3 separate regions of the Homo sapiens genome follow, and regions 2 and 3 are each linked to region 1. Evidence: fine-mapped QTL for protein levels in blood plasma. A gene starts in region 1. Each other region holds a variant in brackets. All regions are shown on one strand. Distances are between the middles of the regions. Region 1 holds the start of IL12B (interleukin 12B). Region 2 has its middle 31 kb from the start of LINC01845. Region 3 overlaps IL12B-AS1 (IL12B antisense RNA 1).

What was found. PIP is the chance, under the fine-mapping model, that this variant and not a neighbour inherited with it causes the effect. The UK Biobank Pharma Proteomics Project read protein levels with antibody pairs (Olink). The fine-mapping took linkage between variants from a reference panel, not from the people measured, so its PIPs are less certain.
Region 2: its variant is fine-mapped to the plasma level of the IL12B protein (UK Biobank, PIP above 0.99).
Region 3: its variant is fine-mapped to the plasma level of the IL12B protein (UK Biobank, PIP above 0.99).

Annotation. Positions count from the first base shown.
Region 1 is chr5:159,326,761-159,336,952 of GRCh38, reverse strand. IL12B (interleukin 12B) reads left to right here and starts at 6,466. Exons shown (of 8, transcript NM_002187.3): 1 at 6,466-6,521; 2 at 10,171-10,192. The coding sequence starts at 10,171. IL12B-AS1 (IL12B antisense RNA 1) reads right to left here and starts at 5,435. Exons shown (of 5, transcript NR_037889.1): 1 at 4,913-5,435; 2 at 3,950-4,171.
Region 2 is chr5:159,430,002-159,440,193 of GRCh38, reverse strand. No RefSeq gene overlaps it. Among named protein-coding and RNA genes, the nearest start is that of LINC01845, 31 kb to the left of the region's middle. RefSeq lists an enhancer at 3,744-4,244. The variant A/G (reference allele first, on the strand shown) is at 5,010.
Region 3 is chr5:159,340,611-159,350,802 of GRCh38, reverse strand. It overlaps IL12B-AS1 (IL12B antisense RNA 1), which reads right to left. Exons shown (of 5, transcript NR_037889.1): 3 at 3,198-3,287. Among named protein-coding and RNA genes, the nearest start is that of IL12B-AS1, 14 kb to the right of the region's middle. The variant C/T (reference allele first, on the strand shown) is at 4,694.

The sequences.
Region 1 (10,192 bases):
TCATTGTAGACATTCTGGAAAATTTAAGAGATCATTAAAAAGAAAACAAAAATAATTCGCCCTCATACCACTCATATATACACTGTTAAATTTTGTGCTCTAGAACCTTCTGTTACCACTAGGGAATGTATCTAAGTCACGTGGCACCAAAATCACGTGGCACCAAAGTATGTTAGTGGTGGTGAACTAACCTCAGTTCTTGCCTCCTCATGAAACATGAGGTTTTCCTTGACCCCTTCAGAGTCCTCCTGACAGGAATGCCTCACTTACTCAGTCCACAGCTCTCAACCCCTCATGGGCGGGGGGGCAGCACACAGGTGAGCAGGTGCAAGAGCCAGAGCAAATGCTTTTGGGCACCGGCAGGACCAAAACTCTGTGCAGGCCCCACAGCAGCATCTAGGGTGGAGTACCCATGACCCCTGCAGCCCCACAGGACATATGTTACAGTGCACTTTTTTAGCTTTGCTATCCATGGTTGGATTAAGTGTTTAACAACTCAGTGAACCCTCTGCCTTTTTGCAAGGGCAGAGGGTCAGTGTGACAGCCTTTAGCATCCTCACCCATGGCACCTGAGATCTCGTTTGGTGTCCAGGAAAAATCAGGTTGCATGAACGAATTGAAGGGCGGTGAATGTGGAGGATTTTATTGCCAGTGGAAGTGGCTCTCCACAGGAAGGGGAGGTGGAAAGGGGAGGGACCGGGAAGGTATTCTTCCCCTGAAGTCCTGCTGTCAAGTCATCCCTCTGAAGTCAAACTGCTTCTCTCCAGCATTCAGCTGCTTCTTCTCTCCTCCCCTTCTCTGCTCTCTGCCAGTGGAGCCTGGGGTTTTTATGGGTGCAGAATGTGGGGGCAGGGTGGGCCATGGGTGGTTTGGGAAACGGCAACATTGGAGTGGGAAAACAGGACTACATGTTCTCACTTTGGGCCACAGCACCAGGCTTGAGGGTGGGTCTTTGCCAAAAACCCCCACTCTTTTCTGCCTAGAATTTCTCTGTCTCCTGTCCCTATTACTCAGAAGAAAGAATTTGACCAAAGGGCTTAAGACAGAGTGAGAGACCCAGGCAAGTTTTAGAGCAGGAGGGAAAGTTTATTTAAAAAGTTTTAGAGCAGGAGGCCAGACACAGTGGCTCATGCCTGTAATCCCAGCACTTTGGGAGGCCGAGGCGGGTGAATCACTTGAGGTCAGGAGTTCGAGAACATCCTGGCCAACCTGGTGAGACCCCATCTCTACTAAAAATACAAAAATTAGCCGGGCGTGGTAGCTGTAATCTCAGCTACTCAGGAGGCTGAGGCACGAGAATGGCTTGAACCCAGGAGGTGGAGGTTGCAGTGAGCCGAGATTGCGCCACTGCACTCCAGCCTGGGAGACAGAGCACGATTCCATCTCAAAAAAAAAGTTAAAAAAAAAGAGAAAGTTTTAGAGCAGGAACAAAAGGAAGTACACTTGGAAGAGGGAGGGTGACTTGAGAGATTCAAGTGTATGGTTTAACCTTTGATTTGGGGTTGCATATGCTGGCATGCTTCTGGGGGGTTGCCTCCCTTCTCCCCTGATTCTTCTCTTGGGGTGGCCTGCCAGCACTTGGGAGGGGCCACATACACAGTATGTTTACTGAAATTGTACGCATGTTCACTTGAGGCATTCTTCCCTTACTAGTTGAGTGTTCTTAGAAGAAGCTCATACACCAGTTAAATTCGACCATTTTCCCTCCTAGTGCTCATGCTTAAGCCCATTCGCCCAGCTCCTAAGATCTTATCCGGAAGCTGCTAATCACCAGCTTCAGGTGTTCTATCTATTGGGAGACTGCCTTTCCCTGGTACCAGCTGTGACCAATTATTATTTTAGAGAAACAGTTTAATAACCATCTGACCCTCACCTGATGGTTGCCTGACATTCCTAGTGGTGGTGGGCGGGGAGTGGCGGGGGAACCCTCTTCTGCCCTGCTCATGTCTGACTAGCTATCTGCCGTGACACTTCCACTCTTCTTTTGGTAAGAGCATGTATGTATGAGGCAGGAGGTAGAAGCTACTTCCCATACTCCTAGGCTAGAAGTATCCCTTCAAAAGCAACTGACCATTTGGGGGAAGAAGCCTTAGTTTTCATTATCCACACAATTGCCCTATTTCTGCACTTCACTGGCCGCACAAATCACTTGGACTCATGTAACAGACACATGTGACTGTATCCATAATAGGTTCATTGCCCATTGCACACAGCAAGTCAATACGCCGAGAGGCCAGGTTGCAGCAGAGAAAGAGGTTTAATCGTAGGGTCACCAAATGAGGAGACAGGAAGAAACCTTAAATCTATCTCCTTGTGGCATTTGGGGCTAGGGTTTTTAAGAGTTTGGGAGTGGGCTGATGTGTTGGAGATGGTTGACTGGTTGAAGAGTGCATGGTGAAGTCATGGGACAGGGTGAAGCTGTATTTTCAACCTGATCCCCTTTCTTTGTGGGGGTTTTCAAACTGAAATATGGTAGAATTGGGGACCTGAAAAACAACTTAAGTGATTCTTAAACAAAAGCGTTCTGATTGTAATGTCAGAGATCCCATCTAAAGGAACAATAGGGATACAAATCAATTCCTACACAATCTTATGACCCTAATGTCAGAAATCCTATCTACAGGAATAATGCAGATGCAAATGGTCAGGATCTAGTGCTACGTGACTTTGAGCAACAAGGAAGTGGGCCAACGTGCAACCTAATCAATGCTTAATTATAACTATATTCCTGTCCAGAACCCAGCATGCAATTCTTGTCAACCCTGTGAGGGTGGTTTCATGACTCTCAATGGCCTACCACTTTCCATCTAGTAGGGCAAACCTGCCTTGTCTATCACTTTCCTTGTAATAAGCCCATTCTCCTTGTCAGGGAGTGGTATACAGGTGATAAGTGAGACTTCATGAAAAGGCTATGGAGCTTGTAGGGCAAATTATTTGCTCCTAAGAGACATCAACAGGACAAGATAGTCTTTTCTTATCCCAGGTGTTATCAGTCCTTAGTGGATTGATGCCTGGAACTGCAGAGCTCCTTAGAAAACTAAGCCCAGGGCAACCTAATTGATGCAGACGTGAAATCTGTTCAAGTGACCTCTAGCAAGTCACTGCAAGTGACTGAATACAAAATAGACTGTTGCAAGAAAAGAGCAACTTGCAGAACAATATGTATAGTATGATTCCATTTATATAGCCAGATAGATATAAATACATAGAGAAGCATTCAGAAGCTCTGCAGGAATGCTGGCACTGGTAACCTCTGGAAGCCACAGGAATCAGGGCCTCAACATTGTATTCTATGTATATTTGTATTGTTTGAAGTTTTTACAATAGCATGCATGCATGTATTGCTTATGTAATTTTCTAAGATTTTAATTTTTATAAGTACACATGGCTTCTCCTTTATTTGAAATGTGTACTAGATGATCAAAGCATTCTTCTAGGAGAAAATAAGTTTTTGTGGCCAAAAAAATTCTTTAAGTTATTTTTGGTTTTTAGGGGGTTGCCTCCATGTCACAGCTTAATCATCAGACACATTAACCTTGCAGCTCAGCACGCCCTCTGTTTGTCAGCAGACCTTCCTCGCCCATAGGGTAAGCAATAGAAAGCTTATAGGTATCAGTTTATTTTGCCTGGGATCAGGGTCTGGATTGTGAAGTGGGACATGTTGATAAACCTCTTCTCCAAAATTAGGTCAATGGGCATTTGGCTCATATTACCAGAATGCTGGCTGGCCATGTACAGCCTGTCTCCGAGAGAGGCTCTAATGTGGCCCCCACATTAGAACAACCTGCCAATGACCACATTAGAACCTCCATTGTTAAAATGCAGGTTCCTGAGCCCCATCCCAGATCTGAATCACAATCTCCAAGCATCAGCCCCAAGAACCTGAATTTTGTTGTTACATGCAGATAAAGTACGAGAACCACTTCCTCCATGGGTGAACTGAACTTACCAAAATAGTCAGTCCCGAGGGGCAGAGATGGCGTAGGTGCCAGTTCTTCTTTCTCATCCTAGATGCTCAGAGTCAAATTCTTGGCTCAGCAATAGACAAGTGATTTCACTGTGGGAAGACAATTCAGAGCCCTGTTCCAGGCTCCTCACATTGATTCTCTCTGTCTTCTTCCACTCCTCTTTGTCATCTTTGATGTCCCCTTGTGAGCTACGAAAAGACTTTCTGGGACACGACAGGATAAAAAAATAAATAAGTGCAAGCAGCCATTCATTAAACGTTTAGCCAGGATGCTGCTTTAACTGCATCCCATCATATCTCATTAATCTTCACACCAGTCCTGAGATCAGGTACTATTATTAACCCGATTTTACAGATGTGAGGAACTGAGGCTTAACGAAGGTAAGTAACTTGCAGGTGCGGGTATCCAGCTCTCTAACTCCAGAGCCCATGCTCTTAAAACCCTATTACTTGTCCCTGGTGGAGGTGAACACTGGGGGCCCTTTCATATAGGACTAGCCCTCGGGCTGCAATCTGAGCGGAAAAGGGAGGATGAGGGCATACTTCGAAGCTTCTTTTGCATAACTGGCGCTGGATTTTTACTGAGACTTTACGTTACAGTTTTTTTTTTTTAATTTTCAAGGTGCTTTTACGAACACATGAATAAAATATTTGTGTCATTTTGAACCTTACTTGTCTTATTTTATGCATGTATTTATTTATGGGGGGGCACAAGGACTCATCTGTGGTGGTGCAGCCACTGTAAATAAATTAGTGAAACTACTTCACGTCAATTTCTGTTCAGTACACTTTAGTGATGGATCGGAGGAAATTAATACATGTTTACAAAAAGCCCCTCCCCCAGTTGTTACATATGCCTCAGAGATACCAGTTGTGAAAAGTGCAGGTGCACTTACACACATACGCACACACACCCCACAAATGGTATCATACGAAAAAACATACCTGCAATCTGCTTTGTCCACTTAATTGTATATCTTGGATACAGAACTTGTTTCACTGGAAGGCTAAAAGGCAAAGTCTGGGGAGGCCTAGAGGACACAGGGGATGGGAGGAGGCGCTCTGAGCTGGATGTAAGGTCTCCACCCACGGCCAGAGCACAAGGTCGGATAACCAGTGGGCCTGCCGGCTTGGCTGCCTGGGCCCTCCCCTGCCGAGACAAACGGCTGGAGGGAGGAAGTGTGCGGCTGGGAAGCTCCGCTGCTCTGGCCCGGGTTTCCCATTTCCCCCTTCCCGCGCTGAGACGGCGAGGAAAGTTAGCCCGGAAATCTGCGCCCGCCTAAAACCCGGCCTGGTCCCAGCCACCGCCCCAGGAACTTCCCCCACCGCAGGGGCGGAGGTCGAGAGCAGGGATGGAGAAGTGGACCTGCGCGGGTGGACTCCGGGGCGCGGGTGGACTCCGGGGCGCGGGGGGACTCCGAGGAGCGGGTGGACTGTGGGGCGCGGGTACCGTCTCGCAGCGACCTCTGTCGGCGGCTCTGGGGATGGCCCGCATCTGTCTGCGTGTACCTGGTATACGTGCAGGTACATGTTCCTGTTCACGTGCAGACTGGGCGGGGGATGGGGGGGTCCACACCGGTGTACACCTTTGCATACCTCTTAGCAACTTGAAATTCCACCACGAGAGATATCTTTATTCCGCTATTCCTGTGCATCTGCACGGAGCCCCTAGGGCCATAGATTTGTGTGCAAATGAAATGAGGATGTAGTCTGGGTGCCCAAGGGGGGGTGCCTTGAGTGTGGTTGTCTGTATGCCTCCCTGAGGGTATTTCACTTTCTGCTCCCATCCGCCCCTATGAGCGAGTACCTATGAGCACAGGATGTGCACATATTTGAGTCTTATTAGTGGTACACGCAGTTTTATCATCTCCCCAGGTCTGTGTCTGTATGAAATGTGCATGGGTGTGTGTGTGCACGCGTGTGTTCCCACTCGGGGAATGTGGGGAGAGGTGCATGGAGCCAAGATGGGTGGTAAATAGTATGTTTCTGAAATTAAAGGACTAATGTGGAGGAAGGCGCCCCAGATGTACTAAACCCTTTGCCCTTCATCTCATCCTCTCTGACTTGGGAAGAACCAGGATTTTGTTTTTAAGCCCTTGGGCATACAGTTGTTCCATCCCGACATGAACTCAGCCTCCCGTCTGACCGCCCCTTGGCCTTCCTTCTTCCTCGATCTGTGGAACCCAGGGAATCTGCCTAGTGCTGTCTCCAAGCACCTTGGCCATGATGTAAACCCAGAGAAATTAGCATCTCCATCTCCTTCCTTATTCCCCACCCAAAAGTCATTTCCTCTTAGTTCATTACCTGGGATTTTGATGTCTATGTTCCCTCCTCGTTATTGATACACACACAGAGAGAGACAAACAAAAAAGGAACTTCTTGAAATTCCCCCAGAAGGTTTTGAGAGTTGTTTTCAATGTTGCAACAAGTCAGTTTCTAGTTTAAGTTTCCATCAGAAAGGAGTAGAGTATATAAGTTCCAGTACCAGCAACAGCAGCAGAAGAAACAACATCTGTTTCAGGGCCATTGGACTCTCCGTCCTGCCCAGAGCAAGGTAAGCACTTCCCAAGCCCCTACCTCCCTCCCCTCCCTGTGGGCCTGCAGCTGTCCAGGTGTAGAAACCGTTAGTGTGCTACCCCAGCAGCTGGCAGGAGGGAGTTGGTGGATTCCTGGAAGCATCCCTGGTGAGTCATCTGCTGGAACATTAGTGAAAACTTAGTACTCTAGGGACCGATGTACAGTGTCCATTTTAAAAGCCACCTAATAATAACTGTATAGCAAGATCTGTGTGTATGCATAGTTTGTGGAAATGTTTGTTTTATCTTATTTTGAAGTGGTGTGTATTGATGTATAAAAGTATATTCCTAAATGTTAATGCCCATCAGTTAAAGGATTGTATAGAGCTAAAGTGAGTGGTGCCTGCCTTACTATTGAAATTTTTAAAAAGCCTTTCGTGCATTCCTTAAAGTAATTGGATTCATAATTATAATAATGTTACAAATCAGACTTGCTCCCATATTTGTGATGGTCTTGGTCGTCAGTTGTGATATCAACCAAAATGACAGCTGGGATCCCCATTCTTGTGGATTAACTAACTTTGGCCCCAGTTAAAAAATGAAAAGCTATTATTGCTTCCTAAAGAGTTTTTAAATCTGTGAGAAGGGGGAAAAAAAGGTTTTTTTACTTGCCCAGGTAAAATTGTGTGCAACAACAATGTCATTTTAACAAAGGGATTACTAAACCCCAGGTGATGACCCACTTTTTCAAACAAGGAATTGCAAGATACTAGATGGAATGTGGGTAACCTCTTAGAGTTTAGTTTACTGGAATCTGAAATTGTATGATTTCCGTACATTCCTTCATGCTACTAATAAGTCATGGAATCCCTCTGTGCTGGACTCTGGGGGTAAAGTGCAAAACAAGATAGACATGATCCATGGCATAAGAGAGTTCACTCAGTGTGGCAGAGAAGACAAACAGTAAAGAAGAGACTGTATTGTTGCCATTGTAGTAAATGCTGTGGAAGGAGGGGAGCAAATAGTGGGTCCTGACTTCATCTAGGCACCATGACACTTCACGTGAATTATGTCACTAACTCCTTACCACAGTAGCATGCCCATTTTATAGATCAGGAGTGTGGGGCTTAAAGGGGCCAAGTGACTCACCCAGAGTCACACAGTTCTAGAAGTCTGCCTGGCCCTCAAACTAGGGATCTTTGCATGTGCCACCCATGCCATCTGTGACTATATCTTTTTATTCTTTAATAATAACTCCCTTTTCTAATTAAAGGTAACAAACAAAACTTAAAAAAGAGATGCCCACCCAAGCGTCATTGGCATGCTGATGTTGGCACCAGTGTTGGGAAGCCCTTAGCATACTCCAGGAAGTAGGAGTGTGTAACGTGGGGTCCCTTTGTCCTTCATGCAAGGGTTTCAAGAGTTTAGAAAACCTATGAAATTGCACACACAAAAATGTGTTTTAATCATCAAGACTCTCAGACTTACCATGCTGAGAAATGTGGGCTGAGGGATAGCGCTCCCTAGTATCAGCTGATGGGCCAGAGAGCCAAAGGAGGAGACCCACCACCATCACCTCTCCTGGACAGTGCTCTGTGGTTTCAAATGTAGGTGATACTAAAATGGGAGTTGCTTCTTAGAACCATGGCCGGGGTTCCCTTGACCCTGAAGTGCAGTTCACCTGAGATTGTCAAATGCATCTGAGGCATGCAGAGGAAGTGCTGGGCACACAGCTAGTGGGAATACCTCAGCGTAAGTGGCCAGGAGATGCCAGGAATCTCCACTATTTCCCTTCCAGTGTGCCAGCCTCTGGGTTTTACAGGCGCATGTAATTGCAGTACCTCTGTGCACATTTCCCTACTGCCTAGAATGACTTTCTTGACTATCCATGATATATAAAACACAGATACCGAATTGTTCCCTTACCTCTTCCTCTAGGTTCAAGTTAATATGTTATTGGTTGCCTTCTATAATATGTTATCTCATTGCCTTTCCCAACAAGCCTTTGAGATAAGTATTAGGTCCATTTTATAGACAAAGAGACTGAGGCTCAGCGAGTAACTTGGCCAACAAGTTGCTCCCACTGCTCAACAGCAAATGAGCGGTGGGACCAAAATTCAAGCCTGTGTCTGTTTAACTTCAAGCCTGTGAATGTACTAACCGGTGCCCTGTGCCAGCTAGTACTTTGCTACAGTCATAACCTAGACTGAAGTGATAGCCATGCCCCTAAAACTCCATGCTGTGGTGACAGCACTGAGCAGTGTCCAAGAAGGCTTGACTTCTAGGCCTGTCTCTGCCACTCACAAACTTTATAAGGGAATAAAGTACATAGCAAGGTCCGCCTAGAGTTAGTAGCAGTTCTGACAAAGCTGTAATTTGTCAATATTCCGTCACCCAACCCAGGAATGCTCATTTTTAAGGTATTTGACTGAAACAGTTGAGCATTGCCCTTCATATAGTTTAAAACAGTGGTTTCAGAACCACTTTCCTCCAGACCATGGGTGCTCTGCAAGGTGAATGGAGTTGTTTCAGAATGTTTCAATAATCATCCCTACCTCATTCGTAAGTGGCATGTAATTTTTGCAATCGGAAGATTTTCATAAACCCTGGATACTAACCTAGACTGGTTTCTATATCAGATGGTGGCTTATTTAACATAAAATTATGCATTTTACTATTTCATGGTGGATATATCAATATGTTGTGGTCTTTTCCCAATGAACACTTTGATTTTCAGGGGTTCTGGACCCTGAACATGGGTTAAACCAGTGGTTCTCAAGGTGTGGTCTTAGCGCCAGCAGCATCTGCTTCCCCTGGAAACTTTCTAGAAATGCATATTCTCAGGCCCTCATGCCTGCTGAATCAGACACTCTGGGGGTGGGACTCAGCCGTCTGTTGTAGCAGTGCTTCCAGGTTATCCTGACAGTCACTCAAATTTTAGAACCACTAGGTTCTCTATATGGGAGAGAGTAGTCTTTGAACTTGGAAAACAAGAGAAGCTAAACCCCTACAGCAAGGGCTGGTGACCAGGTCGTTGCCAGAACCTGAAAGTTCGCCTCTGTATTACCGTTCCTGTCCCTAACCCAAGTCCTTCAGTTCTGGGTGCTCCAGCACACACTGCTTTGTGCTGCAGTGATACAAATGTATGGCTCATCTCCCCAGCTGGCGGGGAGGCATTTAACACACTGACTTAATAAATATTTATTGAGTAAAAGTATTTGCTCCTAGGAAGCGGGATCCAGGTAAGCCCTTTTTTTCTCTCTCAACTGCTTCTAGCCCAGTGCTCTTTATGTAGTAAGCACTAAATAAACAACTGCTAGATGTTGATCCAGAAAGTCACATTCCTTCTCTAAGCTTTAAGTTTCTCATCTTAAAAATAAGAGGATTGTATCAGATGGCTTGCCTTAGGTCTCTTTCAGCTCCAGAGCCCCAAATACCCTATGGTTCTCTATTTAGAGATGTTCTTCCCCACAGACTGCCATAGAACTCCTGTAATTTACTTAGTATTTGCTTGACAGTATGGAGAAGAAAGGGGAGAATCAAGATTTTATTTAAAAAAAAAGTAGCTAGAATGTGTATATGGTTCACAAAGGTAACAAGAATTATTGACATTCTTTCTTCTCTTTTTTCTTCCTCTTCCTTCTCTTTTCCTCCTTCTCTTCCCCCTGCTTCTCTCCCTTCTTATAGATGTGTCACCAGCAGTTGGTCA
Region 2 (10,192 bases), 100 kb before region 1:
CCTGGCATTAATAAAGCTCTGCTCAAAATTAGGTCATTGGTTTTTCTCAGAAATATAGGTATCACTCTTGTGCTAACAATGGTTTTAAAAATATATAAAAATTAAAATAATAAGCCAGGCACAGTAACTCATGCCTGTAATCTCAGCACTTTGGTAGGCCAAGGCGGGAGGATCACTTGAGGTCAGGAGATCAAGACCAGCCTGGGCAACATAGTGAGACCCCCATCTCTACTAAAAATAAAAAATTCTCCAGGCATGGTGGTGCATGCCTGTAGTTCCAGCTACTCAGGTGGCTGAGGCAGGAGGATCACTTGAGCCCAGGAGGTCGAGGCTGCAGTGAACTATGATCATATCACTGCACTCCGGCCTGGGTGATAGAGTGAGATCCTGTCTTTATTTTTAAAATAAAAAGAATAAAAATATCTAATACCTCCTAAGTATTTGCTGCTTTATGTTTTTACTTATTATTTCATTCAATCCTTGCCTCAAGTTGTAAGCATTATCACTCCCATTGCATAGATGAGGAAAATGAAGTTCAAGAAGGGATAGTAACTGCCCAAGGTCACACAGCTACTGGCAGATCTGAGGTTCAAACCTGGGACTGTCTGAATGTCAGCTCTGCCATCTCTAGGCGCCATAATCTTGGGAATTCTTGCCCAGAAATTCAAGGACAGCCAACATGACAGGTCTAAACCATTCATTCCTCCTGAAATGTCAAAGTCAACAATGGGCTATACTTTGCCAAAGCCACTGGCCAACTGTCTCCTTGTCTTACTTGACCTTCTGTGCCAGTGAGCAGATGATCACCCCTCCTTCTTAAAACATGGTTCCTCTTTGATCAGTACCTGGTTGTCCTCCTACCTGCTGCTATTCCTTCTCAGTCTCCTCTGCCCACTACCCCTCCTCAACTTGACCTTTAATTGTTAGGCTCTACAAAGTTCTGCCCTTGGCTATTTTTCTATTTATAATCCTCCATTTGATGATCTCATCCACCCACCCCAAGACTTTAAATTGGATCCATAAACTGGTGACAAATCCACACCTCCTTCCCCCACCTCTCCCCTGGTCATGTCTCCACATGGTTGTCTAATTGACCCACCAAGTTAACTCTGGACACCCACCGCCAAACTCTCTCCTGCCCTTAACAACTCCATCTCACTAAACGGCACCTCCTTGTACTTTGTTGCTGAGGCCAAAAGTCTAGGTCTTATCCTTGATTCATCTCTTTCCCATATGGCTCACCTCCACTCCATTGACAAGCCCTGTTGTTTTGCCTTTCTTTCAACTATATTCTGAATTCACCCACTTCTTACTACTTCCATAGTACCATCTTAGTCCAAGCAACTGTTTTGTCTTACCTGGACTACTTCAGTTGCCTCCTAACTGGTCTCTCTGCATCCGTCTTTGCTCTCCTACATTCTATTTTTCACACAGTAGTCAGAGATACAGGTGTTCAATTTGTACACTTAAAGAGTCTGACCTGGGTCCGAATCTTGCCTCAGCCATGGGGCAACCCACTTTGCCACTTGGTTTCCCCATCTCTCAACCAGGGGTAATGAAATCTGTGATAGCATTGTTTGAGCACTAAGTGAGGTGGTGTGTATATCATGCTTAATGTAGTTCCTGGCTTGTAATGAGTGCTCAAATATGTTATTACTACACACTGCTCAGATTTCCTCAAAGGCAGCCTTGCTAGATGAGCATCAGCTGAAGGTGATGCTGATCAGAAAATGAAGCAACGCCTAATTCATTATATGTCAGCCTCCCAGTTCCTATCTGACCTATGGTGGCCATGGAGCATCACTTCCCGCCCCATCCCTGGATGCCTGTTGACAATCACGGATGTGCACACACACTGGCCTATGAGCAGAGTTTTGAAATGTGAAGTGAGATGGGATTTGAATAGCAGTTTTCTTTGCACATAAAGAAACCACTCCCTGAAACCACTATCCTCCAGACCCAGATGGGAGCCCTGAAATTTACAAGCTCCAGCTCTGAGACAGGGCTTTGCTGTCACAACTTGAAAGAGCCAAAGGCCTGGCCAAGAGAAGAGGTGGATGTGGCCAAGGGTAGAGTCACGATGTTTGTGCCCTACTGTGGACTTTTCAAATTATGAAAACAAAAAATCTCATTCTTATGGAGACATGAGACCCAAACATCATAGGCTGGAGGATGCCTGCCCTCTGGTGAGGAATCACAAGGCAGGCCCCTGCATTCACCTTCTCTCCTCTTTCCTCACCCCTTCCTGGAAAACAGGGATGAGGCTACAAAGTCAGACAGACCTGGGTTCAAGTTCTAGCTCAGCCACTTTCTGGCTGTGTGACCTGTGACAACTATGAATCCTCTTTGAACCTTGGTTTGTTCATCTATAAACTGAAAAGTAATGGTATTACCGATTTCATAAGGAGCTGTGATCATTGTAGAAATAATAAGTATCGTATCTAAAAAGGGAGAGGCAATATAAGATAGCAGTTAAGACTGTGGTCTCTGGAGTTTGAATCCAGCTCTTCCACTCACTGGCTGTGTGACCTTCAACGAGTCACTTGACCTATCTGATTGTCTAATCTGTAAAATGGGGATAACAATTGCTCCTGTCTCCATGATACATTGTGGGAACTAAAGTTGTTAACACATGTCAAGAGCCTTGAACAGTGGCTGACACTTAGCAGGTGCCTGCTTGCTGTTATTTCTGCCTGCTTCCTAGGGCCCACAGATGACCTGCTGTACAAAGAGCTTGGGTGGAAAGGAAGTCCCAAGATCAGGTGGAAGATAATTCCATTACGTGCTCCATTATATGAAGACTCATTGTAATTTTGCTTGATTCCCAGAAAGCTTTGCACCTGTTAGCAAACTAACTCCTGAAAATGAGGCTGCTGGGACCTACATGGGACAAGTCTTTCCATAGAGCTGTAAGGGAAGACATGCAGATGGACACAGTTCCTGTGCCATCTACTCTTAATGCCCACTTACCATGAGCACACAGAATGAACTGGCTTCAAACAGCATCTGGCCTCCTGCCTCTAATCGGTTCTCCACTAAACAGCCAAAACAGACTTGGCAGCATTCAGCAATGCCCATCCTATCCCTGCTCCTCAGGGACCCCAGAGAGAGTCCAAGCCCCTTACCTGGCCTTCAGATTTTCATACAATCTGCCTCCAGCCCCCTTCCCTGATGCTTTCTCTCCATAAGATGTTCCCTCTGTCCACCCACCTCAAACACACATACCACTGCCACTCTGGACTACTTACTTCCCCAAATGTAAACCATAGGTTTATATCTTTGTGCTTTTTCCCCTTTGGTTTGCTCAGTCTGGATTGCCCATTGTATTAGTCCATTCTCCCGAGGCTGTAAAGAAATACCTAAGACTGGGTAATTTATAAAGAAAAGAGATTTAATTGGCTCATGGTTCTGCAGGCTGTACAGGAAGCATAGTTCCTTCTCCTTCTGGGGAGGTCTCAGGAAGCTTCTAATCATGGTGGAAGGCAAAGGGGGAGTGAGACATCTCACATGGTGGGAGTGGGAGCAAGAGAGAAGGAGGAGGTGCTACACACTTTCGAACAACCAGATCTCACAAGAACTCACTCACTATCGCGATGACAGTACCAAGGGAGATGGTGCTAAACCATTCATGAAGGAACACCCCCATGATTCAACCACCGCCCACAGGGCCCCTCCTCCAACACAGGGAATGCTCACTCACCTGTGCAGTCATTGCCACATCATAGGTACAGAGGGTGGTCCCGCCATCTGGTGAAGAAGATGCATGGGCAAGATATGGCTGGATGCATGCCAGGACTTGTCTAGATGCACAGACGATATGTGGCCAAATGCTCCACGGTACCAGACACAGACAATGAGTCTTCCAAATCCTGGAGGGCTGGGGCCACCTGCTTTCAGGAGCTGGGGCCTCAGAATTGAACAGACCTGGTTCAGTGTCACCCTGTGTTGGCAGGACCCCCAGTCCCCTCTTCTCTGTGTTCTGTGATGGTGGTGAAGAGTGCAAGTGTCATGTCAGACAGAACTCGGAAAAAAAACAGCTCTGTAACCCTGGGGGCATAATTTTATCTGTCTGAGCTTTAATTTCCTCTGTCTGTCAAATAGAGTTGATGGTGGGACTGATGTCATAGGTTGTTAGAATTAAAATGAGTCACTCCATATAATGTGCCTAGAATGATGCCAGGCACAGAATTTGTATCCAGTAAGTGGTCACTGCCATTGTGGTTGGAAATACTCTGGCCATTTTTATTCTCCAAATTCCACCACACATCCAGCCTCTCCATTAGCTAGCACTGTGCGGCATGCATTCTCTCTGTAAGCCTCAGCCATTGAAGAACTGCCCAGAGAGACAAGGCAAGGTGAAAATTACATCCAATCCTATGTTCACAGGGACCAGACGAGCAGATTCAGAGTTGGATTGGATTTGGTCATTCGTTTATTCATTCATTTAATTATCCACAATTATGTGTTGAGAAACTCTTGTATGTCAGGCCCTGCTCTGGCTCTTGGACCACAGTCAGCAGTACAGAGATGGTCTCTGCCTTCAAAGAACTCACATTCCAGAGCAGTGCTGTTCAACAGAAATCCCACAAGCACATATGTGACTATAATTTTCTTGTGGTTGCTTTTTTTAACAGGTGCAAGGAAGCTTAATGATATATTTTATTTAGCCCACTATATCCAAAATATAATCATTCTGATATGTCATCAATATTAAAAATTAGTAATTGGATACTTTACATTCTTTTCTGTGCTAGGTCTTCTAAACCCAGTACGTATTTTTCACACACAGCCCCTTTCAGTGTAGACTGGCCACAGTTCAGGCACTCAGTAGCCACAAGGCCTCTGTATTGGACAGAGCTGCTCTCTTGTGTGTGTGAGGGAGCACCACCTTGTTTTTTAATTTTTTATTTTAATCAGTATATTGAAGAGTTATCTTCACTTCTATGCTTATTGCAGCACTATGCATAATAGCCAAGACTTAGAAGCAAACTAAGTGTCCATTAACAGAC[A/G]AATGGATAAAGAAAATGTGGTACATACACACAATAGAGAGCTATTCAGCCATAAAAGAGAATGAGATCCTGTCATTTCCAACAACATGGACGGAACCAGAGGTCATTATGTTAAGTGAAACAAGCCAGATACAGAAAGACAAACATCACATGTTCTCACTTATCTGTGGGAGCTAAGAATGAAAACAATTGAACTCATGGAGATAGAGGTAGAAGGATGGTTACCAGAGGCTGGGAAGGGTAGTCAGTGGGGATAGTTAATGGGTACAAAAAAATAGAAAGAATAAATAAGCCCTAGTGTTTGCTAGCACAACAGCGACTATAGTAAAATAATAATAATAATTGTTCATTTTTAAATAACTAAAAGAATAGAATTGGATTACTTGCAACACAAAGGATAAATGTTTGAGGTGATGGATACCCCATTTACCCTGGTGTGATTGTTATGCATTGCACGCCTGTATCAAAATATCTCATGTACCTCAAAAATATATACACCTACAATTTACCCACAGACATGAACATGTTTTGGTCTCCCCCATCCCACCCCTGCAAAGCCTTCACCATTTTTCAAATCAAATCTAAGCAACAGGCAAACCTGGCTTCAGACCCCAGCTCCTCTAATTATTAGCTGTGAAAATGCAAGATCCTTGTTTCATTTGATTTCCTGGGGCTGCCGTTACAAAGTACCATAAAGGGCGGGGGTGCTTAAAATAACAGAAATGTATTCTCTGACACTTCTAAAACCAAAGTCCAAAATCAAGGTGTTGGCAGGGCCATGCTCTCTCTAGAGGCTCGCAGAGAGAACCCATTTCACACCGTTCTCTTAGCTTCTGGTGTTGCCAGAAGTCCTTGGTATTCCTTGGCTTGTAGATGTGCCCCTGCAGTCTCTGTCTCCATCATCACAGAGCATTCACCCGTGCATCTGTGTCCTCATGTGGCATTCTCCTCTCTATGTGCACCTGCCTCTGTATCTCTTCTCTTCCTAAAGGATAACATTCATATCAGATTAAGGGCCTGCCCTACTCCAGCATGACCTCATCTTAAACACATCTTGATTACATCTGCAAAGACCCTATTTCTAAATGGGGTCACATTCACAGGTACCAGGGGTTAGGACTTCAACCTATCTTTTTGGGGTACACAATTCAATGAACAACACAGGGCCATTGTGAGGATTTGACAATCCACTGTGTGCAAATGCTCCGACATCTCAAAGAGACTCCTTTTATAGTCTCTGCTGGCATCTTGGCTGCTAGATCTCTGCTTGCCCTTATGGCTGACACCAGCCATCTCTGGCAGTTCCCATCACCCCCAGACTTGCCAGCTGCAGGGCATGTGACTCAAACTAGAAATGCACAAAAGGTGACTCCCCATGGAGCAAGCTTAGCTACTGGGGGACTCAAAATGGGAAAAAAGCAGAAGAGGTGTTTGCCCTCCTGTAGAGCCCTGCTCAGGCGGCAGAGGTCCGTAAGACCTCTTGGGACTGTCCAGCAAGATGGAGTAGCCTACAGGGCTGCTGCAGAACGGTGGTCACAACCGTAACACATTCCTTCACGTTACTCTCCTCCTTCACCACCGCACGCCCTTTCCCTCATGCCTTCTTCCCTAAGGTCACACTCCTGCCCTGGTTTGAGCACACGATCCCTCAGATTTGCTTGTCTAGAGTATCTGGACTAAGATATTCAATAAAGGGAAGTTCTATTACCTTTCCAGATTCCGCCAAACAACATCACCTCCACCCCACTCCGACCCCAGTTACTTCATGCTCCCAGGCACCCTGAACACTTACAGCTATAGTAGCACTTAGCAGATCATAATTACTTGCTTCCTTGCCTGTCTCGCCCACCAGTCTGTGGCCCCTGCCATGAACTGCACTCTCTTCATGCTGTATCCCAGCACCTGCATGGACCACTTTCTATTCATCACTCTGTCCCGGGCATCCAGCACTCAGATATTTGATAAGTGACTTGCTGTGATTCAAGTAGCTAGGATCTGCTGACACACGAGGAGGGTGTCTATAAAATCTCTCTCACTCACTCCCACCCTGCCCCTGAGATAATGCTTTTCTATCAGCTTACTGATGCCAGAAACCATGTTTTCCAGGAGACAAAAATCATAATAAGCGATAAGATTTAAAAGCAAATATTGCTAAAAGAGAAAGCATAAGCCCTTAAATGGTAATGAGGGTGTAAATGACTGAGAATGGTTCTTTTCTGATAGGGGCTGGGGAGTCATGGGGTGGTGGAGGTAGGGGGACAAAGGTGGGGCAGAGGTGGCCAGCCCAGGACATTTTATTCTCACATAGAATCAACACCATGCTGCCAGCCAAAGAGACAGCTACCTTCTGGGGGCAATCTGAGGGGTGAAAGGTGCCTCTCCCCCAAGTTAGCTCTGCCATTGATCTGCTGTGTGCCCCAAACTCCCACCCCTCCACGGATCAAGTATGCAATGCAATGAAAGAAAACTCACGAAGCCAGAATACCTGGTTTTCCCACTGGCATTTCCACCTGCTACTGTGTGACCTTGGGTGAAGCCTTTATTCACCCTCTCAGTTTATTTAAACATAACATTAAGATGATGATGACGATGATACAATTCTCTGGTTTATTTACAGGGTCATTGGAAAAATAAAAAAAAGTCACATGTATGAAACTGCCTCCCAGTATGTAAAGTGATTTGCACATATAAGGCATGTATGTATGTGTTGAATGTATGTGTTTGAGACATGGTCTCTCTCTGTTGCCCAGGCTGAAGTGCAGTTGTGTGGTCATAGCTCACTGTAACCTTCAACTCCTGGGCTCAAGCAATCATCCTGCCTCAGCCTTCTGAGTAGCTGGGACTACAGGTAGGAGCCACCACGCTTGGCTAAGTTTTCTGTATTTTTTGTAGAGACAGGATCTCACTATGTTTCCCAGGCTGGTCTCCAACTCCTGGGCTCAAGCAAACCTCCCACCTCAGCCTCCCAAAGTGCTGGCATTACAGGTGTGAACCGCTGTGCCCAGCCAAGATAGTTATTATTTTTAGAACTGTGGTGAGGACCTTTTTTCTTGGAAACCTGGAGCTCTCAGGGAGGGGAAAGTCAAGGGGCAGAAATCCAGCTCTCTCTGTGTGCCTCTCGACCACTCACCCCCATGGGCGCCATTCTGCGTCTAGGGTTCTGGGTGCTAGGAGTCCATCTGCCCCTCAGGCAAAGGGGAGCTGTCACTATTCCCCTGTATACTGTCACTCAAAGCTCCTGTTCCCAGCCCCCACAACCCCAGGATAATCTGAGCTCTAGGCCTTTCTCCCAGAGTCAACAGGCTCCCCCAAAATGACTAAAACTCTGCCTGAATTGGAAGCTATGGAGCACTCAGTTCTCACCTCAGCTTTAACTTGTCAGGGTGGTTCCTAGACATAGGCTTTCCTCTTTGGGGGAAGGTTTTAATGAAGAAATCTGAAAAGTGAATAGGACCACAGTGTAAAACCAGAAAAGTAAAAGCCACAGCAGTGTCTCCTCCCAGGGAGGGTTTCTGTTCTCTGCAGGAAACACCCCGAAATCTAGACTTTTCCTTTCTAACTCTGCATTCCTCCTTGCGCACTGCCATTTCTGCACTTTCAGTGAGTCAAGGCAGTTACAAAAGCCTGCCCAGGTTCAAGGGGAGGAAACACAGACCCCCGCTTCAATGCAGGTGTGTCTCATTATAAAAATGTCCCCAGTGTAAGAGCAGCATGGAGGATGGGCTATACTTGGTGTGGCTATCTCCGGAAAATACTAACTGCCATACTAGCTCTTTAATGAGGGGGAAGAAATGTTCATTAAAAACTATTAACTCAGGCTAAAATATAAAACAGAAAATAGTGAATAAACATTCATACCACAAGAAAACAGCATGCTTGCCCAAGCATCCCCTTAGAATACATTTTGATAATGATAATAACAATTTGCTAAGAGCTTCCCAGCTATAAAATGTCTCCCCATCATTACCTCCTTCCATCCAGCAACGCTGTGAAGCAAATACATCCATTTCCCTGTTAGGGAGATGGAGGTCCACAGCAGTGCCTCACCCTGACTCACACATTTGTTAGTGAGAGTTTTGAGACTGAACCCAAGGCTTCTGACTCTAATTATGGGTTCCTGTCCACATCTGACCAGCAACCAGTTTGAGTGATATTTAGGATCTGTTTCACAGAGTTTGAAAGTCAATACAAAATGTTCAGTCTAGTGATCTGGCTGTGGCTTTACCGCAGTTTGAGTCTGAGCAAATCACTTTCTGAGTGTCAGTTTCACCATCTGTAAATGCAGAAGATTGCACTACAGGAATTGAAACTTTTTCCATGTAAAGAAAAATGTAAGCAATCACACCCTTTCTCCAGGCAAAATCTTACATGAGGATTCCTACTCTATGAAACATCTGTTCAAAAATAGAGCTGCCCTACCCACCAAAGCTAAACATGCAGCCACCCAGTAACCCTGCAATACCACTCTGGGTATATACCCGACAGAAATGTGTTCGTTTTTCCCCAAAAAGGCTGTGCAAGAGTGTTCATAGCAGCTATGTTCATAACATCAAAATATGGAAACAACCCAAATGTCCATCAAAAGCAGAAAAGCTAAATAAATTCTGGTATAGTCACACAACAGAATACTACACAGCAATGAAAAAGGGTGGGCGGCTCCTACATGCTAGAACATGGATGAATCTCCCAGACATAATTTTGAACAAAAGAAGTTAGACAAAATGAACGCATGCTCTACGATTCCATTTATATGAGTTCGAAAACAGATAATATGAAAATGGTGGTTCTCTTTGGTGACAGCACTGATGGGAAAGAACCAGAGAGAGCTTACTGGGACTTTGGAAAGATTCTTTATCTTGATCTGTGGTTACATGGGTGCATAAGTTTATACAAACTCATCAGGCTTTATTTTATTTCATGTATCTTTTGAGACAGGGCCTCACTCTGTCACCCAGGCTGGAGTGCAGTGACACAATCAAAGCTCACTGCAGCCTCAACCTCACGGGCTCAAGTGATCCACCCACCTCAGCCTCCTAAGTAGCTGAGACTACAGCCATGAGCCACCATGCCCAGCTAATTTTTGTATTTCTTGTAGAGTTGGGGTTTTGCCATGTTGCCCAAACTGGTCTTGAACTCCTGAGCTCAAGATATCCACCCACCTCAGCTTCCCAGAATGCTGGGAT
Region 3 (10,192 bases), 14 kb before region 1:
TCTATCATTGATGGACATTTGGGTTGGTTCCAAGTCTTTGCTATTGTGAATAGTGCCACAATAAACATACATGTGCATGTGTCTTTATAGTAGCATGATTTATAATTCTTTGGGTATATACCCAGTAATGGGTTGGCTGGGACAAATAGTATTTCTAGTTCTAGATCCTTGAGGAATCGCCACACTGTCTTCCACAATGGTTGAACTAGTTTACAGTCCCACCAACAGTGTAAAAGTGTTCCTATTTCTCCACATCCTCTCTAGCACCTGTTGTTTGCTGACTTTTTAATGATCGCCATTCTAACTGGTGTGAGATGGCATCTCATTGTGGTTTTGATTTGCATTCAGGAAAGCTAATGTTGTAGTTCTAGTTTGAAAGCCAGCAGACTCAAGACTCAGAAAGAGCTAATGTTTCAATTCAAGTTCAAAGGCAAGAAAAAACAGATGTTGCAGCTCAGAGGTAGTCAGGCAGAAGAAATTCCTTTTTATTTGTGGGCAGGGTCAGCCTTTTTTTCTATTCAGACTTTTAACTGATTAAATGAGGCTAAGCTACATTACGAAGGGAAATCTACTTTACTCAGTCTATCAATTTCTATCAATTTAAATGTCAAACTAATCCAAAACATCCTCCCAGAAGCACATAGAATAATGTTTGACTAAATATGTGGGCACCTCATGTCCCAGTGAAGTTGACACAAAAAATTAACCATCACAGCAAGATTGCATGAAACAAGATCAATATACAAAAATAATTGTATTTTTATACAATTGCAATGACCAATATGAAAATTAATAGGAAAATTCATCTGCAATAGCACCAAAAAGTATTAAATACTTAGGAATAAATTGAACAAAAGAAATGAAAGTTATATGCTGAGAACTGCAAAACATTGTTGAGAAAATAAAGAAGGTCTAAATAAATGGAGAAAACCCTATAATCACGGGTTTTCCAATCCTTAACATTGTTATACTCCCCAAACTGATGTGTAAATTCAACACATTCCCTATCAGAATCCAAACTGACTTCTTTGTACAAATTAACAAGTTGATTTAGAAACTTATATGGAATTAAAAGAGATCTGGAATAGCCATAATAATCCTTAAAAAGAAGAATAAAGTATGAGGACTCAAACTTCTCTATTTCAAAACTTAACTACAAAACAACAATAGTCAAGACAGTATGGTACTGGCATAAGGATAGGCATACAGATCAATGGAACAGAACATTGAGAGCACAGAAATAAACCCATATGTCTATGGTCAACTGATTTTGGCAAGGGTACCAAGACCCTTCAGTGGGGGAAAATGGTCTTTCCAACAAATGGTGCTGGGATAACAGAATAGTCACATGAAAAAGAATAGGGACGTCTATAGAGATTTAAATTAGATTAGGGGTAGTTTATGGCTGAGGATGGGGTCAGGGTGGTAGGTGAGTGCTAGCCAAAAGATAGGAGATTTCATCTCAAGGGGATGAAAACTTTCTAAAATTGCGGTGGCTCACACCTATAATCCCAACATTTTGGGAGGCTGAGGCAGGAGGATCACTTGAGCCCAGGAATTTAAGACCAGCCTGGGCAACAGAGTGAGACCCTGTCTCTACAAAAAATTAAAAAGTTAATACCGAGTGTGGTGGTAGATGCCTGCAGTCCCATCTACTCAAGAGGCTGAGGCAGGAGGATTGCTTGAAGCCAGGAGGTCTAGGCTTCAGTGAGTTATGATTGCAATGCTGCACTCCAGCCTGGCCAACAGAGCAAGACCCTGCCTCAAATAAATAATATTTATATATCAAATAAATAATAAATATAAAATTGTGTAAAATTTAGTATATTAACATATGTGTAACCATTTGTGTGTAACCATGTGAATATATTAAATTTTACACAATTTTAATTTAAAATTGTTACACATATGTAAATATATTAAAAGCCATTGAATTGTATACTTTAAATGGGCAAACTGTATAGTATGTGAATTATATCTCAATAAGGCTATTTGTTTAAAAAAAAGAAGAAACTCTAAATTTTAAAGACAATGCAAAAAATACACAAGGCATCTCATTAATTTTTACACTGATTACATATTAAGATGATAATATTTTATATATATTGGTTTACATAAAATATATAATTAAAATTAATGTCATGTTTCTTTTTATTTTTTAATATGGCTACTAAAAAAATTCAAAATTACATATATGGCTCATTTTATATTTCTATTGGATAACGCTGCTCTAGAGATTTTACACACATTTGTAAAATGTGTGTAAAAAAACACTCTGAACCCTAACTTCCTTATATGTTATAAGGCTGTAATAATAGTACTGGCTTCACACAGTTATGGTGAGGATTAAATGGTTTTAAAGAACTTAGCATTTGGATGTTAGCTTTTATTCTAAGTGTTAGTTCTTATTATCAGAGAAGCCTCTGGGTACCATTGAGTACAGCAGTGATATAAAAAAACCCCAGTAGACACCTTGGATTTATTTTACTATTATAAAATTATTTTTAGAAATGAATCTTAGAAACCATCACATCCAGTAATCACTAACTGTCACCTTGCCAAACTGTTGTTTAACAACCCCCTGGTTTTCAAAACTTGAATCTGAGTATCTTTATTGTGGGACTGCGCTCTCTACTTTGCTGTAAGCCTGACCACTCCCTGTTCCCTTAGCAGAGCCTCACACCTGAGTTACTTCCTTGGTATTGGAGGTATTTGCATTTATACCTGATCCTACACTAGTCCAAGCCCCTCACCTTCCTGATGAAGAAACTGGGGCCCGTGGAAGGGACACTGAGCTGCTAAATGCAGAATTCAGCCTGCAGAGGACCAGGCCAGTCCTCACACAGGCAATGCATTATCCAGAAGACCCTGACTAGCAGGGACTGCAACACAGGCTATTCAGCTTGTATGCTAACACGCTATCCTTGGGAGTCTTGGTGGGACTTCCAGTGTTCTTTAGTTTATTGCCACTGGAGAACTAAATCATTATTGGCAATCATGATACCTTTAATGGAGACCAGTGGATCATTCTGATGCAGAGGGAGAGAAGATGGTACTTGGAACTCAGAAGTTCCAAATAGCCTGGTTTAACATACGCAAAAAATCCAGTTCTGTGTAAATCTGCCAATTAGCCATCTCTGCAGCACTGATCTCCCTTTTATTTCCTTCCTCATACTTGTTTATCAAATAATACTTACCAAAGCTCAATCATCTGATTCCCAGGGTAAGCCCAGAGAGAAGTGTGACCTGGGATAATTAGTCCCATTTCATTGTTGAGGAAACTGGGCCTAAAGAAGACAGGAATGGGAGAGCTAAGCCAGGACCAGAAGAGAGTTTGGCAAAGTTCACTGAATGCATATTTTGTTTTTGCCATATGCAAATACCACCTGCATTATTTAGTTATCTTTCTTTTTCTTCTTCTTTTTTTCTGCTCTGTCACACCAGTGCAGTAGTATGATCATAGCTCACTGCAGCCTCAAACACCCTGTCTCAAGTGATCGTCCCACTCCTCCCACCTCGGCCTCCTCAGCAGCTGGGACTACAGGTACGTACCGCTATGCCTGGCTTTTATTTTTAAGAGACGGGGTCTCACTACGTTGCCCAGACTGGTCTCAAACTCCTGGCCTCAAGTAATCCTCCTGCCTTTAGTTTTTATTTTCCTTTAACAGGCACTTACTGTTTTTATGTAAGTCAACTGATGTTGAAAGGAAATTTTACTTCAATGCCTTCAGTAGAAAACTAGTATCACGTGCCATTAATAGAAGGTTAATAAATATAATACAAAACAATTCTAATTAGAAACCGTTGTCTGGAGAGCTTCTAAAAATCCTAATGCCCAAGCCAGACCTTAGAGCTATTAAACTGGAATTCCTCTGGGGAGGAAGCAATTAGGCATAAGTAATTTGTTAAAGCTCTCCCCAGGAAATAGCATCATGCAGCCAAGGATGAGATCCACTAGAATAGATGCTGTTGCCTGCTAATGCCTCTAAGGCTGAAGAGTGCTTGCCCTCCTTAAGAAGAGAGATCAACAAGTGATAGAGAGGTATTAAAGAGACAATAGGCCTGGCGCGGTGCCTCATGCCTGTAATCCCAGCACTTTGGGAGGCCGAGGCGGGAGGATCACAAGGTCAGGAGATTGAGACCATCCTGGCTAACACGGTGAAACCCCATCGCTACTAAAAATACAAAAAATTAGCTGGGCGTGGTGGCGGGCACCTGTAGTCCCAGCTACTTGGGAGGCTGAGGCAGGAGAATGGTGTGAACTCAGGAGCCGGAGCTTGCAGTGAGCCGAGATCGCACCACTGCACTCCAGCCTGGGCGACAGAGCAAGACTCTGACTCAAAAAAAAAAAAAAAGAGAGACAATAGCCTAAAACCGACACTTTCTCCTTAGCATCAGAAGAACTGAAAAGTAACTTTGAAATGGGAAAAGTTTTCATTTGTAATTTGTTACTGTTGAATCAGTTGCTCCTTTGCAGTCTAAAACCAGCTCACATGGCACTTGCCCTTTGGAAAACACTGGATCAGAAGACCCCAGGTGGTGTGGTTTCTATTCCTGTGCCCTTTCAGCTCCAGCAGCTAGCTTCCCAGCCAAAGACTCCCACAAGGTCACTGGAGAACCCCTACTCACCTCTGTGTGTTCTCCAGCAGGGACTCCAAAATGCCTGCATTTACATCACACTGTCAGACACATC[C/T]TTCTATTTCAAAATGAATCTTCTCAGTGGCTCACATTAAAAACCTTAAGGCAAAACCGCATCTCCGTCTCCTTTCATTTCCTCTCAAGAAGCCCCTTGTTTTCGTCTAGGAATATCTGGCCCTAGAGAAGGCTTAAGTCAGCCCTGCCCTTTTGGATCTTAAAAAGAGGTATAGCTAGGGAAGAGGGAGAAACAGGAGACTCAGTGCAGATCCGCACATGACTTTGAGAGGGTCTTCTGCTGTGAAGTTTCTCTTTCATCCCTCACCTCTGAACACACACAAGACTGTCCTGATGGACGGATGCATTTAGAATGAAAGCTGGACTTTTGGGTGAGGATTCCAGATCTCCATAACATCATTTTCTTATCTGGCTTGGGGCATCACTGAAAGAACTGGGTACCTGCCTCTGTGGACTAGGGTTTGAAGAGCTGCCCCAGAAGGACTACATGGCCTCAAGAGCAAGCAGTTTGGCTCACTAGGCAGGTTGTTGAGCAAACCTCTGATCTGCTTACTTCCTACATTTACAACCTAGAACGCTGACACAGTGCCTACCACCAGATGAGCAGGCTACTTTACTGTCTTGTCAGCAGAATCCTTCTGTCTTGTTTCCCTTAGAGCCTAAGGTTCTGCTTTGAGGTCTCCTCCCTATTCTCCATCTCAAAGTTACACAGTCCCACCTCCTAGCCTTAGCTCTTGTTGTGCCCATAGTCCAGAATGTTCTTCTGCCCCATCCCTGTCTGTCCAAAGCCTACCCACCCTCAAAGCTGATTGAAAATGTCAACTCCTCCATAAAGCCTAAGATGATTCCCCTGGTCAAATAATAACAGTAATGGAATTAACAAAAAATAACAGTAATAATAATAGCCTAGCATTTGCTGAGTACTGCTGTGGGCAGGCAATGGGCTAAGATCTCATACTCATAATCTCAACCAAATCTTATACTAGATGTATCTTATTATCCCTGCCCTGCCATTTTTGATATCAACTTACTTGTTCTCTCTGTGCCTCATTTTTCTCAGATATCAATGGGGATTATAATATGTCTTCCTTGTAAGATTGTTTTAGGTATAAAATAAGCTAGTGTATATAAAGCATCAGCATAGTACCTGACACTATGGTTTTGGCTTAGTGAGTATCATTACTTCTTGTAACAACTTAAAGGTCTGGGTTTGTACTGATAAGGACAGGAGGAAGGGAAATACTGGGTAGAAGAGGGCAGGGTCCATGGCAAGGACTCCACCCTCAAGCCTGGACCCGCAGCCCTAGATGAGAACTTCACATCCCTGTTTTCCCGCTCGAATGTTGCCTTTTCTAAAACCACCCTGGCATGCCACACTTCCCTCCCCACCCTGTACCCACAAAAACTCCAAGTTCCACTGGCAGAGGAGCAGAGCGGTGCAGCAGAGAAGGAGAGAAGGGAAGAAGTGTCTGAACATCAAGAGTAGAAGAGGCAGCTGGACATCGGAGACTATGGTTGGAGAGGAATTTGGCCAGGAATGGCTGAACTCCAGAGGAAGAGTATCTTCCCACTCCATCCCCTTTCTAGCTCCCCATCCCACTGAGAGCCACCTCCACCACTCAATAAAGTCTCCACATTCACCATCCTTCAAGTCCCTGTGACCTGATTCTTCCTGGACATAGGACAAGAACCTGGGTATCAAGAGGGCAGGGTGTGAAAGGCTGTCACCCCAACCCTCCACTGAGCGGGTAAACACTTAGCTGTCTGTGGACAGCAAATGCTAAAAGAGTATTGTTTGTAACACATGCCCCCTTGGGCTCCAGAGGTCATGGACAACCCCTAGACACTGCCACAGGCTGGTACACAGTTTGTTCCTAATGGCTTCCAAAGGCAATCACCCCAGCTCCTGCTCCTGCTCTCCTGTGTGCTCCCCCTCATGCAAGGGGTTTGAGTGCAGTGGCCAAGTAAACAAGTCACCAATGTTGCAAGTCCCATGAGGAGGTCAAGGGAACAATCCCATCTCAGTATTATTCTCATCTTATAGATGAGAAAACCAAGCAATAGAGGTTGAGTAAACAGTCCAAGTTCAGTGACAAGCAAGAATTTTACTTCCCTCTGGTCTTCACTGAACTTTGCTCATCACAAAGATGATGTAAGGATAATCTTCCAGTTGCCATGGGAACTCATTTCATCAGCATCTCAGCCATCCTAGATGATTTGCATACATGACTTTATGCAGAAAGAGAAAGTTAAACTGACTTGAAGTCAACTGGCTCTACTGGCTACTGTCCTTTGAGATACTGTGATATTTGCATTGCATCATGGTTCTAGGGTATCCCAAAGACAGGTCTGCTCATTAATCCTCATACTTTCTCTCATTCACCAAGAATGTGATCCAGCTAGGGAAACAGACGAGAGCGACCAAGGAACGTGCTGGTGGAGCAGGTGTTGAATTCCTTCTCTGCATTTCTGCTCTTCCACTCTTTAATTGCCTTCTGGCAGGATGTTCCTGACTGCAGAGGCAACACCTAAAGCTTAGCCAGCTTAACTGCAGGTCTGCACAATAACAAACCCTTCAGAATTTCAGCACTCATTTCTTCATCAAGGGCCCCAAAATTATGGTTGTGTATCACCTACTCATTTCCTCTTGGTTCAACCTCACATGCTTTCATACTACTGCTGACCATCTGTACATGTTACTCACCCCTTTCCTCCTTTCCTCTATTCAAATAAGCCAGGCTGGGTTCGCACTCCAGAGGTACCCCTATTGATGGTTGGGCAAATAGGATACAGTTTCCAGAAAGAGTGACAACTTTGCTTCCTGGAATCCCTGCACAAAATGCAGGGTCACATATGGCCCTGAGGAGGGATTTGGTGGCAAAGAGATATCTAACTTTAGTAGTTTGAAAGTACTATGGCTAGCTGTGGTTCCAAACTCTCTACCAGGTCACCCTGGGGTAGCATAGTAAATTCACAGGACTGTTGGGAGGTATTTTAAATTTTCCAAGGGAAAGACAGGATCCTCCATATCTGTTGAACACTGCACAAACTCAGGGTTGTTCATGGTTTCAACATTAGATTACGTCATATTCCTTTCAGTGATGGCATCTTTTGGGGAAGCCATGTTTTTGGCAGTTACTGTGACAAAAAGCAAGTGCCACAAGGAAATCAGTGTGGAACAGGAAATGAAGGTGGCAGTGTCCACTCTGATTCCAAAGTTTAAGGAGTTGCACAGTGCCCAGCAGGCCACACATCCCATGAGTAAGTAATTGTGATGATTTCAGAATACAAAAAAATATTTTTTTTGTTTCAATGTATCATTTTTTTTCAAATGGCCAATACAAAGTTTTTAGCACATAAAGACTTTTAAGCGATTTGACCCTAACTAGTTAATCAATGAATCTATTTGGTATTTCTTTTGGCCTACAGATGCCATGAAAAAATTACTGAAGCACTAAGCGTTCTGCGACCAAGGAAGATTTGGAAACTTCTGGTCTGGTCAAGTCAGCCATGTTTCACAGCTCCCAAGAACTTCATTGGTACCTGATCCTATGACAAAGCATACCTGGGTCTTGGTTTTGGTTATCGTGGTTGTTTCATCTCAGAGACTTTTACATATTTTCAGTGCTAAATGTGCCTACTACATGGGGCCTGTGCAGCCATGTGCCTCGGCCAGCACCTGCCTCAGACTCCCTGGGCATCTCTCCCTTTCCTCTGCGCTTAAGTCACACCAACCTCCTTTCCATTCCTCCAACCCGCCAAGCCCTCTCCCATTGTAGGGGCTTCTTACTGATTCTCATCCTGGTTCACCTGTAGGTCCCAACTTAAATGCCACCTCATCAGAGAGCCCTCCCCTGTGATTCTCTGTCTCACCACCCATTCATTTCCTTCATAGCATTTTGTCCTCTGCACATATCTATTTAGCTCTATGAGGACAGAGTCCAGGTCTGATCTGCTTACTACATTCACAGAATTTAGCTGGGTGCCTGATATGTAATTGTCACTCAATAAATAACCGCAAGGTTAACAAGTGTCAGTTTAAATCATACACACATTTTAACTGGGGCCCTGTGCAGCCCAAAGCATTTCAGAAGGCTTTTCTGGCAAACAGCCCATCAGATAGACACGTGGGACAATTGCATCACTAGCCACAGGCAGAGACAGTCAAGGGCGGTGTTTGCGATCAAGAATCCCAGCTCTGCCACCTCCTTGCTGGCAGACATTGGGCAAGTTACTCATTCTGCCTCTACCAGCCATGTCTTTGCTTGGAAAAGGGTTGTTAAAAGGACTAACTATAAAGCTCTTAAGTAAAATCTGTCAAGAAACAAGCACTCTAAATAAAAGTAAGCTGCTTTTATTAGGACAAGGACAGTGTTCAAGGACTATCCCATGAATGCCCACACACCATTCTGAGAGGAAGTTTCTGCCTCAGAAACTGACAGGTCCAATGCTTCTTGCTTGTTTTAGAATAAAAGGCTCAATTCAAAAAATGATATATGGACAATTAATTCTTAGCCCCATTGGTGTCCCCCACACAACTCATGATTAAAACCAAAAAGAATCTGTTATGGAACTTTGATTATCCAGCTGGACAACAGAAATGGAGAATGTTAGGCAGTGACTGTCAATTTGTCTAGACTCAAACTGCTCTATGGCACCAAGCACATGGTGGAATGTGTGTGCCTAATCCTTCCAGTCCTTTGCTTGTCCCCTTCTAACCAGCTCTCTTCATGTTCTAGGCTTAAAAGTAAGCCCAGTGCACCATGATGTTGTTCCGGTTGTACCTGGGGAGTTCCAGGGGCCAAGGGCTGCTCACAGTCACAGAGAGGAAATGACACATGGCTCCTCTTCTTGCAGTGGGAAGAAGCATGAGTACCAGCCTTCATCTGTCCACACCTTAGTTACTGTTGCTCTCTTTCCTGGGTCTCCTTCGCCCAGCCTCTCCCCTACCTGATCCTCATGTCTGGATGCCTCATTTTCACAACCCCCTGGAATCACATCACTCTCCTCCCCAAGCGCTATCTACACTTCCTATTTCATGCATACCCACATCTTAGAAAACCATTTCTCCCACTGGCTTCCTATAGATGGCCTAGCTAAGGGTAATGTCTTTTCTGCTAACCTGATTTGCTGTCACTTTATAAATTTTATATAGGATGGTCTTACAAGACAGATGGTACTGATGGACTCAAACACGTGATGTGTTTCAATCCCAGATTCTCCATCTACTAGCTACATTTTTCATGGAAAGTTAGCTTTACATCTCTAAGCCTCAGTCTCCTCACCAGTAAAGTGGGCAGAATAATTTCCACCTCATAGCTTTGTTGTGAGTACGAGATGAGAAAACTCACATGAAACACACACCACAGTAACTGGTCCACAGGAAGCACACCCAAAAAGTCTACTACTGTGGTTGCTGAGGTCAACCCCCCATTTGGTAGATCTCAGCTTAGACATCATCTATTCTGGAAAACCTTCCCTCACCGCCACCCCGAAGATGTGTGTGCATCTAAAGCACCCTTGCTGTGATTGTCATTGC